Linked DNA regions of Homo sapiens: region 2 is linked to region 1. Evidence: fine-mapped expression QTL. Tissue or cell type: whole blood. Region 1 holds a variant in brackets; the other region holds the start of a gene. All regions are shown on one strand. Distances are between the middles of the regions.

The links. PIP is the estimated chance that this variant, and not a neighbour inherited with it, causes the effect.
Region 2: it holds the start of MCM3, and the variant in region 1 is fine-mapped to the expression of MCM3 in whole blood (TOPMed, PIP 0.95).

Annotation. Positions count from the first base shown.
Region 1 is chr6:52,371,886-52,380,505 of GRCh38, forward strand. All of the region lies in intron 1 of PAQR8 (progestin and adipoQ receptor family member 8), which reads left to right. Among named protein-coding and RNA genes, the nearest start is that of PAQR8, 14 kb to the left of the region's middle. The variant T/G (reference allele first, on the strand shown) is at 4,162.
Region 2 is chr6:52,282,581-52,288,876 of GRCh38, forward strand. It overlaps MCM3 (minichromosome maintenance complex component 3), which reads right to left and starts at 2,162. Exons shown (of 17, transcript NM_002388.6): 1 at 2,017-2,162; 2 at 714-826; 3 at 73-281. The coding sequence starts at 2,094. RefSeq lists enhancers at 2,040-2,119, 2,440-2,639 and a silencer at 4,719-4,788.

The sequences.
Region 1 (8,620 bases):
TGCCTTGTTTGTGTGGGGGCATGAAATCGTGTTTGGAAATGCTGGTTTAATTAAGGGATTCCTTGGAGTGCATATCTAGCTTGGCATTACTCCAGGGTGGAGTTCCCTGTCTGTCCAGCTCAGCACTCTATCTAAGAAATCCTAGAAGCTGGGAATTTCTGGGGCTGGCTCTGAATTGATGTAAGTGGTTTCCTGAACCCACTGGAGGCATGGAGTGCATTGAACATTTTTTCACTATTTTGTATGCCTGTGAAACCACATACATGTCTGTCAGGCAGCTGCACGAGCCATTAAAACTTGGAAATGCTTAGCTTTTGGCTGGAAATGACAGTAGCTCAGTTTGGAGCCACTACCAGCTCAACTAAAGCTGACTCGGAACTCTGATTCTGTATATCTGTAAAAGATCTAGGTAATGAATATTGGAAGGATGTGAGATTTAGTAAACTTCCAAAGCATAGAGAACCAATAATGATCAACTTATTGTTACTGATAGTGAAAAGGTTGGGCAGTAGTGGATGATCTAGAGTGACAGTGAAGTTCTCCATGTGTTTAACTCCCTCATGTTGGCCCCAGAACCCACCCATGTTTCTAGAGAGGCAGGCTGGTCTCTTGGCACCTCTGTGACCTGGAAACAATGCCCTCAAAACCTCTGATCTACAACAGATTACATTTAATGAGCACATGTGTGCTAAGAGTTTTACATGTATTTCTCTCTCTCTTTCTTTCTCTCTCTCTCTTAAACTTTCTGTTATTGAAATTTCAAACAGGCAGAGGTAGACAATATGGTATAATAAATCCCCATGTGCCCATCAACCAATTTCAGTAATTATTAGCTCATGGCCAACTCCATATATATATATATATATGGATATATATATATATATCTTCAGATTATTTTAAAGCAAATCCCAGACATCATATTATTTGTGAACATTCTAAAATGTGTTTCCAAAAGGTAAGGACCCTTTTATTATAATTCTTTAAACTTCACAATAACACTGTTAGATATCACTATATCCCTATTTGACAGATGAAGGCTCTGAGACACAAGGAGTTTAAATTACTTGCCCCTGGTCACCCAACTTGTAACTGACGGAGTCAGGATTCAAATCCAAGTTGCCTAACTCCAAAGCCCATCTTGTTTACTGCCATGCTACATGGTTGCTACCAGACCCCACTGTTGTAGCTAATCCTTGCATTACAGAATTGGATCCTGGGATTAACAAACTCCCACGGACATGACTGTTGATTTCTATGAATTCAACCATTTTCCCATTGCTGCAAATTGGGTTCATTTAGGTACACAGGGACAGAATAGCTGTGAAAGGCCCGTCTGAAAGAAAGAAAGGACCAGCCTGAAATATTAATGGATTCTATTAGGGCAGCAAAACTGATAAAGCAGTCAAACCCTTCTTGTGATAGTGTTTTAAATCTTGGAGAAATCCACAATGAAAAGGACTTAATAGAAAATACGACTGTCATTGGGCCATAGCTGCCAAGGGAACTAAAAGGTTTCTTTTAAATGAATTCTCCTTTGGTTTTCTCTTGGCGGAAGGAATCAGCCGTCCCACTGAGTCTTTTCAGTTTGTTTCTAGCACAGCTAATTGTGTTTATTTGTCTCCGGAATCACATGCCTCTCTCCTCTCCCTTGCTTTTTCTTAGGGTCTCTTGCCTGCTGTGTACTGCTTTTACTGCCAGAAATGTTCTCCTCACCTGGGAGCCAGTTGGCTGCCAACACTGAGTAGGTACTGGGAGGCTGATTCTGCCTCTCCAGAGATCTGACCTGGCCTGGGTGTCCAAGATTGCCTTAGGGTAGAGGGAGAGATTGGATAAGCTGGCTACAAAAGGATCTGTTTTTTTTTTTTTTCCTCAGATGTGTCCACTTGGTCCATAACAGCATTAAGAACAGAGCAGACAGCAAGTAAATAAATCGTATTGACTAATTGATCAAGATAGCTTTGCTAGTTGATACGGTTTAGATCTGTGTCTCCACCCAAATCTCATGTTCAGTTATAATCCCCAGTGTTGGAAGTGGGGCATGGTGACTAGATCATGGGGGCAGTTTCTCATGGCTTCACATCATCCCCATTGAAGTTGTCATCCTGATGGTTCTCATGAGATCTGGTTGTCTAAAAGTATGTGACACCTCCCCACTCCCTCTCTTACTCCTGTTCCAGCATTGTGAAGTACTTGCTCCCCCTTTGCCTTCTGCCATGATTGTAACCTTCCTGAGGCCTCCCCAGAAAGTGGGCAGATGCCAGCATCATGCTTCCTGTACAGCCTGCAGAACCGTGGCCAATTAAACCTCTTTGCTTTGTAAATTACCCAGTGTCCAGTATTTCTTTATAACAATGAGAGAATGGGCTAATACACTAGTCAAGTTCAAGAAACTTTGGTTCTCCATTTTTCCTATCAAAACATCACATTGACTTTCCTGCTTAATAGTTTCCTTTGTCATTGGGATCACTGCACTGATATTTACTCGCTTCTTTCCTCCTCCTCCCCTCCCTCTTTTCGTTTTGTTTCGTTTCTTTCATTTCTTCTTTTGACAGGGTCTTACTCTGTTGCCCAGGCTGTAAGTACAGTGGTGTAATCATAGCTCACTGTGACCTTGAGCACCTGGGCTCAAGTGATCCTCTTGTTTCAGCCTTGTTATTAGGTAGGATTACAGTCACATACCACGATGCCCAGCTAATTTTTTGCAGGGTCTTGCTATGTTGGTGCCCAGGTTGGTCTTGAACTCCTGGGCTCAAGCCATTCTCCTGCCTTGGCCTCATAAAGTGCTGGGATTATAGGTATGAGCCTATAGGTATTTGCTTGATTCCTAAACCTCTGTTTCCTTTTCTTCCCCCTTACCTGTCCTGTCCCATCACAGAAGCCATATAACTGCTGGAGAACTTCCTAGCTCTTTTTTTAACCATCTTACTCATAGAGTTCTAGAAGATGGTAGTTGTCAGGATGCAATTGAAGAAAAGCCTAGAAATTCCACCTTTGGCTCTCTATGGGACATGCCAAGGAGGACCTCATTATTATTAGAGATAATAATTAATATAATATTATATTAATATAATAATATTAGAGATAATGAGGGAAATACATTTTCAGGGACAATGTATTTTATTTAAAGATATGTTATTGCAAATATTTTGAAATAGTTTTTTATTATTGATATGATCACTACTTTTTAAAAACGTTTAGTGGGAAAAACAGTAGACGACAAGTCACTTAGTTGTCTATAGTAGAGTCAGCTCGGGGGTGGCAAATATATGGCTCTGTGCCACTGTTCCCTCCTGAGCCCCACCTCCCTCAAGAGCTTGTGGCAGACATTGTAAATCCATAACACCTTGCCCTCTAAACTCCAGTCCAGGCCTGGAATGCTGCTCAACACGTGATTTCAGGAAGCCATTACCAAGCAATAGAGGTTGGCATGACAAGTGAAATCTATTTGCCATCTCCTAAATAAGTAGTCTATAAAGCCCTTCCTGCACTAAAATTCAGTGAGCTCTTTAGCCTGTGGTCATATTAGGTCCCTAACAGCTAGGGAGCAGATCTCCTCATTCATTGACATTACCACATAGATGCCAAACCCTCTCTGGAAAACAGAAGAGAAAGCAAAATTTTTTTGATTAATTTTTTTTTAAGATGCAGGGTCTCACTCTGTCACCTAGGTTGGAGTGCAATGGTGTGATCTGATCATAGCTTACTACAGCCTCCCCTCCTGGGCTCAAGTGATCCTCCCTCCTCAGCCTCCCAAGTACTTGGGACTACAGGTGCATGGCACCACTCCTGGCTAATTTTTATGTGTTTATTTATTTATTCTTTTGTAGAGACAGGGTCTGTGTTGCCCAAGCTGGTCTTGAGCTCCTGGGCTCAAGTGATCCTACTGCCTTGGCCTTCCAAAGCACTAGGATTACAGGTATGAGCCACCATGCCTGGCTGGGATGCTTTAAACACTGATGGTTCATGGAAGATTTGGAAGTTGCAACTCTCCCTTTGCAACTTATAGTAGGTCCTTCAGTGGTTTGTCAGTAAGACTAAATCAAATCATTCTTAAGGAAGAAAAATGCTAATGCAGTGCTGAAGGGGAAGAAAAGGAATTGAAACCCAGAGCCTGTCCTGTTCCTACTCTGGTATAGCAGTTGTATTAAACTGAATCTAGAT[T/G]ATGTGTAGTTTAATGAGATGGGAAAGCAAAAAACTTAGTGCCTGGTTATAACTAACTTGCTGTCACATAGTAGTTCTCTTTTGAAGAAATTTGGAGAGTATTAAGATAATGCGTATGAAGCATCAAGACTTCCTTGGTGAGGTTTTAAGTGTTCATGACCATATTTTAGACAATGTATTGGACAGCAGTAATGGCTTAGGCCAGTCCGTAGTCACCAAAATCATTGTGAGCTGGTAGGCTATGCAGGCAGAAGCTGTGTGGGCTGCTCCAGGCCTGCCTGTCTCTAAGAGGCTTGACAGAGGATGCCAGGCTGCTTTCTGGGTGGTTAAGATCAGACTGTGTATGCACTGGTGTGGTTTTCTCTTGTTTTAATCAACAGTACATTCTTTTGCAAGGAAAAGACAAACTGAGGCTCATTTTGGAATGCTCTGATTTCAGAGCAAGGACAGGCAGAGATACTTTTCCATTTTGGAAGTCTCAACTGAATATTGGATATGGGGTGAGGAAAAGCAGGAAGAAAAACCCATATAGGTTAGACAAAATATTAGATTAGCCAAGTATTTTTAAAGTATTTTCTAAAAATTAGATAAGATTTAGAGCTTACCCCCACCCCATTAATTGTATACTTTTGTCTAGTGATGCGTATGTAAAAATCATACTTAAGCTGAAATCACTTCTGGCTTACTGTTGTTCTTTATTTTCTGCATCTTTTTGGATGTCATATAAAAAGAGGCCCCCCAAATCATCATTTGCTTGTTATTTGGGAATGCGAAAGTAATTGAATTCTCTGGAGGGATGAGTGGTGGTTGAGGCTGAAATAGCAAGTTGGGAATGAATGCAACTTTTCAGTAGATACTATAATCCTTTGTCAAAGGGAGTGCTGGGGTGATGGAAATGAAACTGCAAGTGCTGACCTTGAATTTCTGGTAACATTGAGTGCTTGTCTCTTCCCAGCCCATGTGATCTATGGACTTGCCCAAATAGCTTCTTGCTGGTACTGTATCCTCTGTTTTCTAAAGGCACCTTAGGGACTTCAAAAGGCACACTTTTGCTTTAAAATGCATCGTATTTTAATGTTAACTCGATGGTAAACTTATATAATATTGGCTGTTAGACACTGAATAAGCTTAAAATGGAAAAGTGACACTTTCTCGACCTGCATTCATCTTACTCCTTGTAATTGCATTCATTTTTTTTCAACTTTAATTCAGAAATCTTAAGTAGTTGGCCTTTATTATTATTTTCAGTTTACGGCATTATTGGTACCAGAAGGATTGTGGTTTATTTTAAGTATATGATTCATTTAATCTGATGGGACTCAGGCTTGGACTGTCTGCTTTCCAGCCCACTTTGCCTCCAAGATCAATGCAACCTCAAAGAAGGAAAGTTTTAAGTTTTTTAATGGTGTTTATGATTGATGTACCTTGTTGATATTAATAACTGTATCTGCTACATTATAGCTTTGATTAATCACAGTCTTCAAGTAAACTGACTTGCTGACATATTCCACTTTAGAGAAAAAAATATCAAAACACAGGAAAATCAAATGCTATTAGGACTTTTGTTTAAGAGCAATTTCGCAGGGAGAACATCCTTGGGACTTGTTTAAGAAGCAACTTCCCAAAAGCCTAGGAAGTTTTGTTTAAGAGCAAAACTTAAAGGGGAAACTTAGTTTTGGTTAAGAGCAAAACTTAAAGGGGAAACTTAACTTCCCCTTTAAGTTTTGCTCTTAACCAAAACTTCCTAGGCTTACCATAGACACAGTCCTATCTTCTTCGCATTGGTATCTCTATTAGCCAAACTTTATATGGAAAGAGATAAAGGACCTGGACAAAATTATGTTCACTTACACATTTAGGAAAGTGGACTAATACATTGGTAGAATGATTTCCAATAAACGAGGTTGAAACAGAAAGCATTTCCTGAATAGCATAAAAGTTTAGGGTGTGGGCTCTGGAGCCAGACTACCTGGGCACAGATTCTGGCTCCACCACTTCCTGTCTGGATTTTGGGCAAGGGACTTCACCTGTTTCCTCATCTGTACAATAGCTAAAAATAGTAGATTCCATTTCATAGAGTTGAGAGGAGTAAATGTTTTATTTATTTAAGTCACATGCAATGACCTTAGAACCATGTGTAGTAGAGAGTAAGTGCTCAATATATGTAAGTCATTTTAGTAATTATCACTGGCAACTGGATAAAGAACAGTAACAGTGAAGAAGAAATGCTATATCTCTGGTTTCTGGCTTGAGCACCTGGGTGCAGCCATTTACTGAGATAGGAACAAGAAGCACAGGACAGAAGTAGGGTTAGTGGAAGAAGCTTGATTCTCTTTTGGTAGTGTTCATTTGAGGTATCTTTGTTACAGCTAAGCAGAGTTATCAAGTGGGCATCAAATATACCCCATTCCAGATATAACAAAATTTTGTGGAATATTATTCAACCTTAAAAAGGAAGAAAATTGGCCAGGCGCGGTGGCTGAGGCATGTAATCCCAGCACTTTGGGAGGCCGAGGCGGGCGGATCACGAGGTCAGGAGTTCAAGACCAGCCTGACCAACATGATGAAACCCTGTCTCTACTAAAAATACAAAAATTAGCTGGGCGTGGTGGTGTATGCCTGAAATCCCAGCTACTTGGGAGGCTGAGGCAGGAGAATCACTTGAACCTGGGAGGTGGAGGTTGCAGTGAGCTGAGATTGGGCCTCTGCACTCCAGCCTGGGCGACAGAGCAAGATTCTGTCTAAAAAAAAAGGGGGGGAAGAAAATTGACCAGGCATGGTGGCTTAAACCTGTAATCCCAGCACTTTGGGAGGCTGAGGTGGGTGGATCACCTGAGGTCAGGAGTTCGAGACCAGCCTAACTGATATGGTGAAACCCCTTCTCTACTAAAAATACAAAAATTAGCCAGGCATGGTGGTGGGCGCCTGTAGTCCCAGCTACTCGGGAAGCTGAGACAGGAGAATTGCTTGCACGTGGGAGGCAGAGATTGCAGTGAGCCAAGATCGTGCCACTGCACTCCAGCCTGAGTGACAAAGCAATACTCTTTATCAAAAAAAAAAAAAAAAAAAAAAGGAAATTCTGGCACATGCTATGACATGGATGACCCTTGGGGATATTATGCTAAGCAAAATAAGCCAGTCACAAAAGGAAAGCACTGTATGATTCCACTTATATAACGGACCTAGAGTAGTGTTCTCTGAATTCATAGAGACGGAAAGTAGAATGGCGGTTGCCAGGGGATTGGGAAGAGGGAGCCATGGGGAGTTGTTTAATGGATACAGAGTTTCAGTTTTGCAAGATGAAAAGAGTTCTGGAGATCGGTTGCACAACACTGTGAATTGATTTAACACTACTGAACTGTACACTTAAAATGGTAAGATGGTAAATTTTATGTTAGGTATTTTACTTTATTTTTATTTTTTGAGACAGAGTCTCGCTCTGTTGCCTAGGCTGGAGTGCAGTGTCGCGATCTCGACTCACTGCAACCTCCGCCTCCTGGGTTCAAGTGATTTTCCTGCCTCAGCCTCCCGAGTAGCTGGGATTACAGGTGCGTACCGCCACACCCAGCTTTCTTTTTTTTTTTTTTTTTTTTTTTTTGAGATGGAGTCTCGCTCTGTCCCCCAGGCTGGAGTGCAGTGCTGCGATCTCGGCTCACTGCGAGCTCCGCCTCCCGGGTTCACGCCATTCTCCTGCTTCAGCCTCCGAAGTAGCTGGGACTATAGGCGCCTGCTACCGCGCCCGGCTAATTTTTTTGTATTTTTAGTACAGATGGGGTTTCACCGTGTTAGCCAGGATGGTCTCGATCTGCTGACCTCGTGATCCGCCTGTCTCGGCCTCCCAAAGTGCTGGGATTACAGGCGTGAGCCACCGCACCTGGCCGCTATTTTGTATTTTTAAGAGATGGGGTTTCACCATGTTGGCCAGGCTGGTCTTCAACTCCTGACCTCATGAGATCCACCTGCCTTGGCCTCCCAAAGTGCTGGGATTACAGGCGTGAGCCACCCGACCCGGCCTGGATTTTTTTAAAGTGTGAGCAGAAAATAACATGTTAAGTCACAAGGTGATAAGTAGTACTATGGAAAACAAAGAAAAAGTAGAGCAGAGTTAGGTGTTGTGGAATGCCAGGGAGAGTAGAAATGCGGTATTAAATCAATAGGGTGGTTGGGAAGCCTCCTTGAAGAGGTGAGATTTGAGCAAAGACTGGAAGGAGTTGTTTGTCTCTTGGCTACTATTAAAATCTGTGTCTAAATCTGCCAGGGTCCACCCGTGGTATGGCAATGCTCAGTCAATAATCAAGCTGTGTATATCTTTTAAAGTACATATTCGTGGGCAGCTGTGGACGTGGACATTTCAACTCATTTGGAAAAACAATCCAGGCAGTCAGGTAGCACTTCACAGATTATAATCAGATATCATCTGAGACTTGAGGTTATGTTACAGTAAGGACAAATGGTTATT
Region 2 (6,296 bases), 90 kb before region 1:
TACTTTGCCTCTCCTGCTTTCCCCATCTCCCTGTCTATTCATTTCCTAAGCGGCCCCCTTTAACCCACTTACATTTAGTGACAATGCCCTCCACACAGACCACACAGCTGAGGAAGCAGGAGGTAAGAGTCCGCGGGGAGACGTGCTTGGAGCCAAAGCTGCCTTCCAGTCCTACGTAGAACTCCTCATACTGCTTGGCATAGGTAGCATCAATGGAGGCCACAAAATCCTTTAAGGCCCGCTGGAAGGCAACCAGCTCCTCAAAGGCATTGTTCAGAAGCCTGTACATAAGCAAGAGAAAGAAAAATTAGACTGGGCAGAACTCAAAAAAATGGATCCTCAAAACAGCAGACATTCTTAGATCATTAAAAACAATGAGAAAATCCAGCTTCTGCTTTCTCCTATAAGTCTCAGTAAAACACCATCCTATAAGACTCAGTAAAATACCAGAACTAAGGACCAACTTCACCTCAACTTATCAAAGATATAAAAATGATATTCAGCTAAACATTGGAAGGAGGGGCATTTGGGAGGAAAATGCCAACCACCCACTTTTTGAAAAAAAAAAAAAAAAAAATAGGTGCAGGTGAGCTACGAGGGCTTGTAGATCAATCCTGTTTCATACAAGTCCTCTCCTGAGAGGCTGTTCCAATCTGGCCAAGAGGGAAGGGAGCCATTCTCACTGACAGCCAGTATATCCCCTTGCCTCTCACCGGTTAGCCCTCTTCTCGTTTTTCCTGCGCAGGTCATTCACATTGACAATCAGCCGGTATTGGTTGTCACTGATCAGCTCCCGAACTTTGCTCTGATAAATTCCCTGGTCTTCCTGCAAAACAGCCACCACATATCACCATAGCCACAAATTTAAAAACAATGTTTCTAAACAGAAGTAGTTCTCATAGCCAGATAGCTAAGTCAATCTCTGCAGCAGAGCTGAATCCCCAGTAAGTATGTGCTCATCAATTTCTCCCTTTCATTCACTGTTTTTAGATTCGAAATAACACCCTAAGAGGGGACTATAAGAATTATAATGACTTCCTCAAGGTCCATGCTGTTATTCCCATCATCATGGACAACTTTTCTGCATGCTGTAATTTCTGTCTTTAGTGGAGAATTAAAATGAGCTCATGAGAAGTCTAAATGGACAGTAAGTGCAAACTTTGTTAAAATGTTAAGTTAAACCTAGCAATGTGAATGTTAAAGGTAACAACGTGAATAGATGGATATGTTGTTTCACTGTAGTAATCATTTCACCATGTATATCAAAACATGTGCACTTCAAATATATACAATAAAAATGTAAATAAAACAGACTCTTAATAGTCACATTAAAATGGCTTTTCATTTAAGAATTATGTAAAAAGTAATATTTTTTCCAATCATCTCTATAATACGGAAAGGGTTCTCATACCCCGACCTAAAGGAATAGAGAATCTCAGCTATTTGGTCACATCATCAACCCTTCAAGATGGTTTTTTCAACATTCTATGGCTTTAAGTCTTGGGTTGCACATAAAATCCCCTTGGCCTGCACACAAAACACTTTTTATCTGCATCTTAGTTGGTATTGAAAAAGAATGCAGCCGAATTATGGAGTCTTTTCCTCCAGGTAAAACGTCAGTCCCTAAAATCTGAGCACTCTGCAACGCGGCTGGTCACTATAGCCCTAGGGCAGCCCCTCCCCCACAGTCTCCTCAAATCAAGAGAGAGCAGTGAAATGCAAAAGGCCGAGGTGGGCTTTGCCAATCTGCTTGCACTTAATGGGAACCTGTCGCCTTTTGCGCGCCCGGACCATCGCTTGTACTTAAGAGAAAGCTGGCTTCCTAAGAGTTCACTTATCGAACACAAACTAGCGAGTCCGGCGTTGAGAAGTTACAAGATTGGGGCTGGAGGCTCGGGCCCGGCAGGCTCCGCTGCGGCACACGGTCTGGAGGTCTGGCGGGCCTCTGGCTTCCCGGCCGGGCCGCGTCCGCAGGGGCTCCGAGCGCTAGAGCCCGCGCGCCGGCGCCTCCCTCACCTCGTCGTCCAGGAAGTCCAGGTAATCTCTCTGAGCCTCCCGCAGCTCCACATCGTCCAGCACCACGGTACCCGCCATGCCCGCTGCCAAAGAACTACCTCCACCAAAGTCGCGTGGAGGTTCCCAGGATGACTCCACCCCGGCGCGAAAACTTCCGAACTCTTCCCGCCACCAAAGGTTACCTCGAGGAAGAGGCGGGGACCTTGGGAGCATATAAGCATTATGATTGGCTGAGTTCTCTGAGGTCGGACTAGCGACTGTCCAATCAAAAGCTTCTTCTTCTTCGGGTTTTCCGCTGCGCGCCCCGCGGTGGCGGGAAACGTACCATCCGGGATTCTCTGTTCCTCCCCTCCCTCCGCCTCACTCACTGACGAGCAAACTGACCAATAGGGCTGAGAGGAGGCTCACAGAGGCTGGTCATTGAGCAGCTGGAGGGGACAGGCTGGCGAGAGGGAAAGCATTGCGTTCTGGGAGTTGTAGTGTTCTCCCTCCTTTCCGGATGTTTTTGCAGGGTTTTTCAAGCTGCAGAACTTTTGACCCGATGCAACGACCAAATTCAGAGGATGGTGCTTTATAACGCAGGGAGATGAAAACATAAAAGCAAATCATTTTTAAGATATATCCAAATCAGAACTGCCCTCCAGTGGCATCCTAGTGTAAAAGTGGATTTTGAGAATCTATAGGATAGAATATAGAACTACAGTACCTTAGGGAAAGATTAGTTAAAAACCCATTTGCTATCTGATACCGTTGCCTGACGAACTCCATAAAGACATCGCCGCAGAGAAGGATGAAGTGAAAAAAAAAATCTGTGTTTACCCTGCCCCCTAGAGACTTCATCGTGTGTTATACAAATTTTGGAAACCGTTACTACTCCATCTTACTTAATAACAGGTAAATTAAAGGCTTTCTGGTCTTATAAAAAGATCACAAGATCCTTTTAAGTAACTTAGCTTACTGAACGATCAGCTCAAGAGGGGAAAAAGTGTTTCACGTCACTTTGATTAAATATCAATCAGTAACTAACAGCAAATCTGAAACCATAATGACTAAAAGATCATCGCACGTCCAAATTTGTATGTTTGTTTTCAGTCCGTCGTGGTTGGCTTTTTCTTATATTTCTAGTTTTATTTTGAGATATAATGTATATACAGTAAAATGCACAAATCTTAAGTGTACAGCTCAGTGAATTTTTACCTGTGCTTACACCCATGTAACCACTCTGCACAATAAAGAGCAAGCCCATTGCCCCAGCATGTGTTTTTAATTTTACTGAACAAGAAGCTGAAATACTGGATTGCCCAACATCAGACATTTGATAATTCTTTATCTGAAATTTCAGCCAACTATTAGCTTATGTTTTAAAGTCTTCAGGACTCACTATGTACTGATAAATATTCTAAGAATAATCTGCCTAAACAAAATATATAGGCCATCTATTTGTGTGGGTATATGTATTTCTAGTTATTATTCAGTTTATAGTTACTGTATGTTTTGTGCCATCCTAGTGGGCAGATAAATCGATCCTTAGCCAAAGCAAAAAGGCTGTCATTTGACTGCTTGCTTTTATGTTTATTAACGGGCAAAAAAAAAAGAAAATTCTAGAATAAAGATACTGTTTGCCGTTATATAGCAAGAGGTAATTACTGATTTATTAAGACTTTTTACTCATAACTCTTATTTTATGAACTTATTGGACAGAGTACTGAGATATCCTCTGCTCTGGAAACAATTTGAAATTAACACTAAAAGAACCGGGAAGCTTAGTTCAAACTAGCAAAGAAGTCGAGTCATTTGTAGTAGAAAGTCCAAAAGAGTGGAAATCTGAAAACCACATCTTTGATTCTCACACTTTTTTCTGGGCTTGTTTCCTTATATACAGTATAAGATGAAGAAACTGAATTAGAATATCTCTGATAATCTGTCTTACTCTAACATTCCATGAGCTAATGGCAAATTTGGAAACTATGTAAAGACAATTCTATTTAATGAATTAATCATGCCATGGTCTTTGATAAAGACTTGATTTGTCCCAATATAATCATCTTCAGCTGTGAAGGACACACCGCTATTTAATTGGTGTTTCTCCCTTCTTTCATTAGGGCATGAAATCTTTAAGCAGAGGAAATGTATTTCCTTTGTTATCCCCGACACCTGCAAACTGCCCAAAATCAATCAGGTTGTTGCTACAGAAAAATTAGGGGCATTTGTACATATCTCATAAAAAGTCCAGCTGAGCTTAGCCCGTAGTCCTCCTCTATCCTGATTCAAAATTAAAAAGCACATATAATCTAATAAAGTAGTGTATCTACAGTTTCCATACTTGGGTCACATTCCTGCTTTCCTCCATTTCAATTTTCTTTCCACCCTAGACTTTAATGGACTCAAGCCCATCTCCAAGGCTGCCTAAACGCTAGGGGGCTCCCTGGAGAGCAGAGTATACAGGAAGAGAATGGAAAGAAAACAAGATTGCAAAGAGATTGCAAAATAGATGTAATACTGCCATTTTTCTATGTCCTCAGGGTCCAAAAAATACCCAAAGACACAATACAAATCCATAATAAATATTATTACAAGAAATTATATATACCTTTGTTCAAACTAATGAACATTATATGTTGCAAAACATTTCAAATAATACCCTGTAATTAATAACTTGTTTAGGCACTCAGGAAAGTGCCATAATTCATTAGCAGTCCTTTGACATTTACTCAAAGGCCACCAAAGCTTGGAGGTGAGCAAATCTATGCCTCCAGGTGTCACAGCAGCTCAAGGAATAATCTGTAGGCACAGGCTTGCCCTAACCTCACAGTTCTGCAGTGTGAAGTCAGAATCTTCAGATGCTGTAGCATCTAGAGTTTCAAGCACCAAGACAGGCAGATTTGGTTACTCTTTCTGGCTGCTCTGTATATTACCTGCACGACTAGGCAACTTACTTAACCACTCTGTGCCTCAGTTTCTTCACCTTTCAAATTAGGTTAGTAGTATCTAACTCAAATGTTTAAGTATCCAGTGAAGTCATAACAGATGTAAACTACTGAAAAAAGTGCCTGGTATGTAGTAAGCATTAAATAAATGTTAACCATTGGTAGTGGTGGTGAATGGTAGTTGGAGAGGAGTCAAGGGATAGGAGAAGGGGAGGAAGCACTGTAGTGCATTCTGAAACAATTCAGACAACCAAATTCAAACCCCCTTCCCACTTCCACCAAAAAACTTACAATACAACCAACCCAGACACTTCCTTGAGTGGGACCTTTTTCTGCTGGAAGTCCAATTGGCTAAAAAAAATAACATAGGCAGGGTGTTGTTTGGCTCGGATTCCGACAGTGTTGGAAGCCATCAGATGCATTTACTCCATGCTCAAAGAACATTATGGAATACTAAATGGACTCCTTTATAAAACTCTTTTAAAAGAGTCTGGTCAGCCGGCACAGTGGCTCACACCAGTAATCCTAGCAATTTGTGAGGCCGAGGCAAGTGGATCACCTGAGGTCAGGAGTTCAAGACCAGCCTGGCCAACATAGTGAAACCCCGTCTCTACCAAAAATACAAAAAAATTAGCTAGGCATGGTGGCCGGCACCTATAATCCCAGCTACTTGGAAGACTGAGGCAGGATAATCGCTTGAACCCAGGAGGCGGAGGTTGCAATAAGCCAAGATCACGCCATTGCACTCCAGCCTGGGTGACAAAAGTGAAACTCTGTCTCAAAAAATAAATAAATAAACGAGTCTGATCACCTTTCTTGTCTCCCTTTTGCACTCTTCTGTTGCTTCCTGGAGTCCTTCCGGTTAGATATGCTAAAAAGAGCCGGAAAATCCAGGAGCCAGACAGAGAACATCAGTGATCATGATTTTCCCATTAAATATAACAACACAGTTGGCTTGCCAACAATTAGTGATTCATTGGTATTTGCCAAGGTTAATTTCAGTAATCTGATTTCTTAGTCCGTAAGAAGTCATCCCCATTCTTTTTCTTTCTGAGAGATAGGTTCACTATGCTGCCCAGAATGGTCTTAAACTCCTGGCCTCAAGTGATCCTACCACCTTGGCGTGAGCCACCATGCCCAGCCCCCATTCTTTTTTTTTTTTTTTTGACGAAGTCTCGCTCTGTCGCCCAGACTGGAGTGCAGTGTGCAATCTCGGCTCACTGCCACCTCTACCTCTCGGGTTCAAGCAATTCTCCTGCCTCAGCCTCCCGAGTAGCTGGGATTACAGGCAGGCGCCACCATGCCCAGCTAATTTTTGTATTTTTAGCAGAGACTGGGTTTCACCATGTTGGT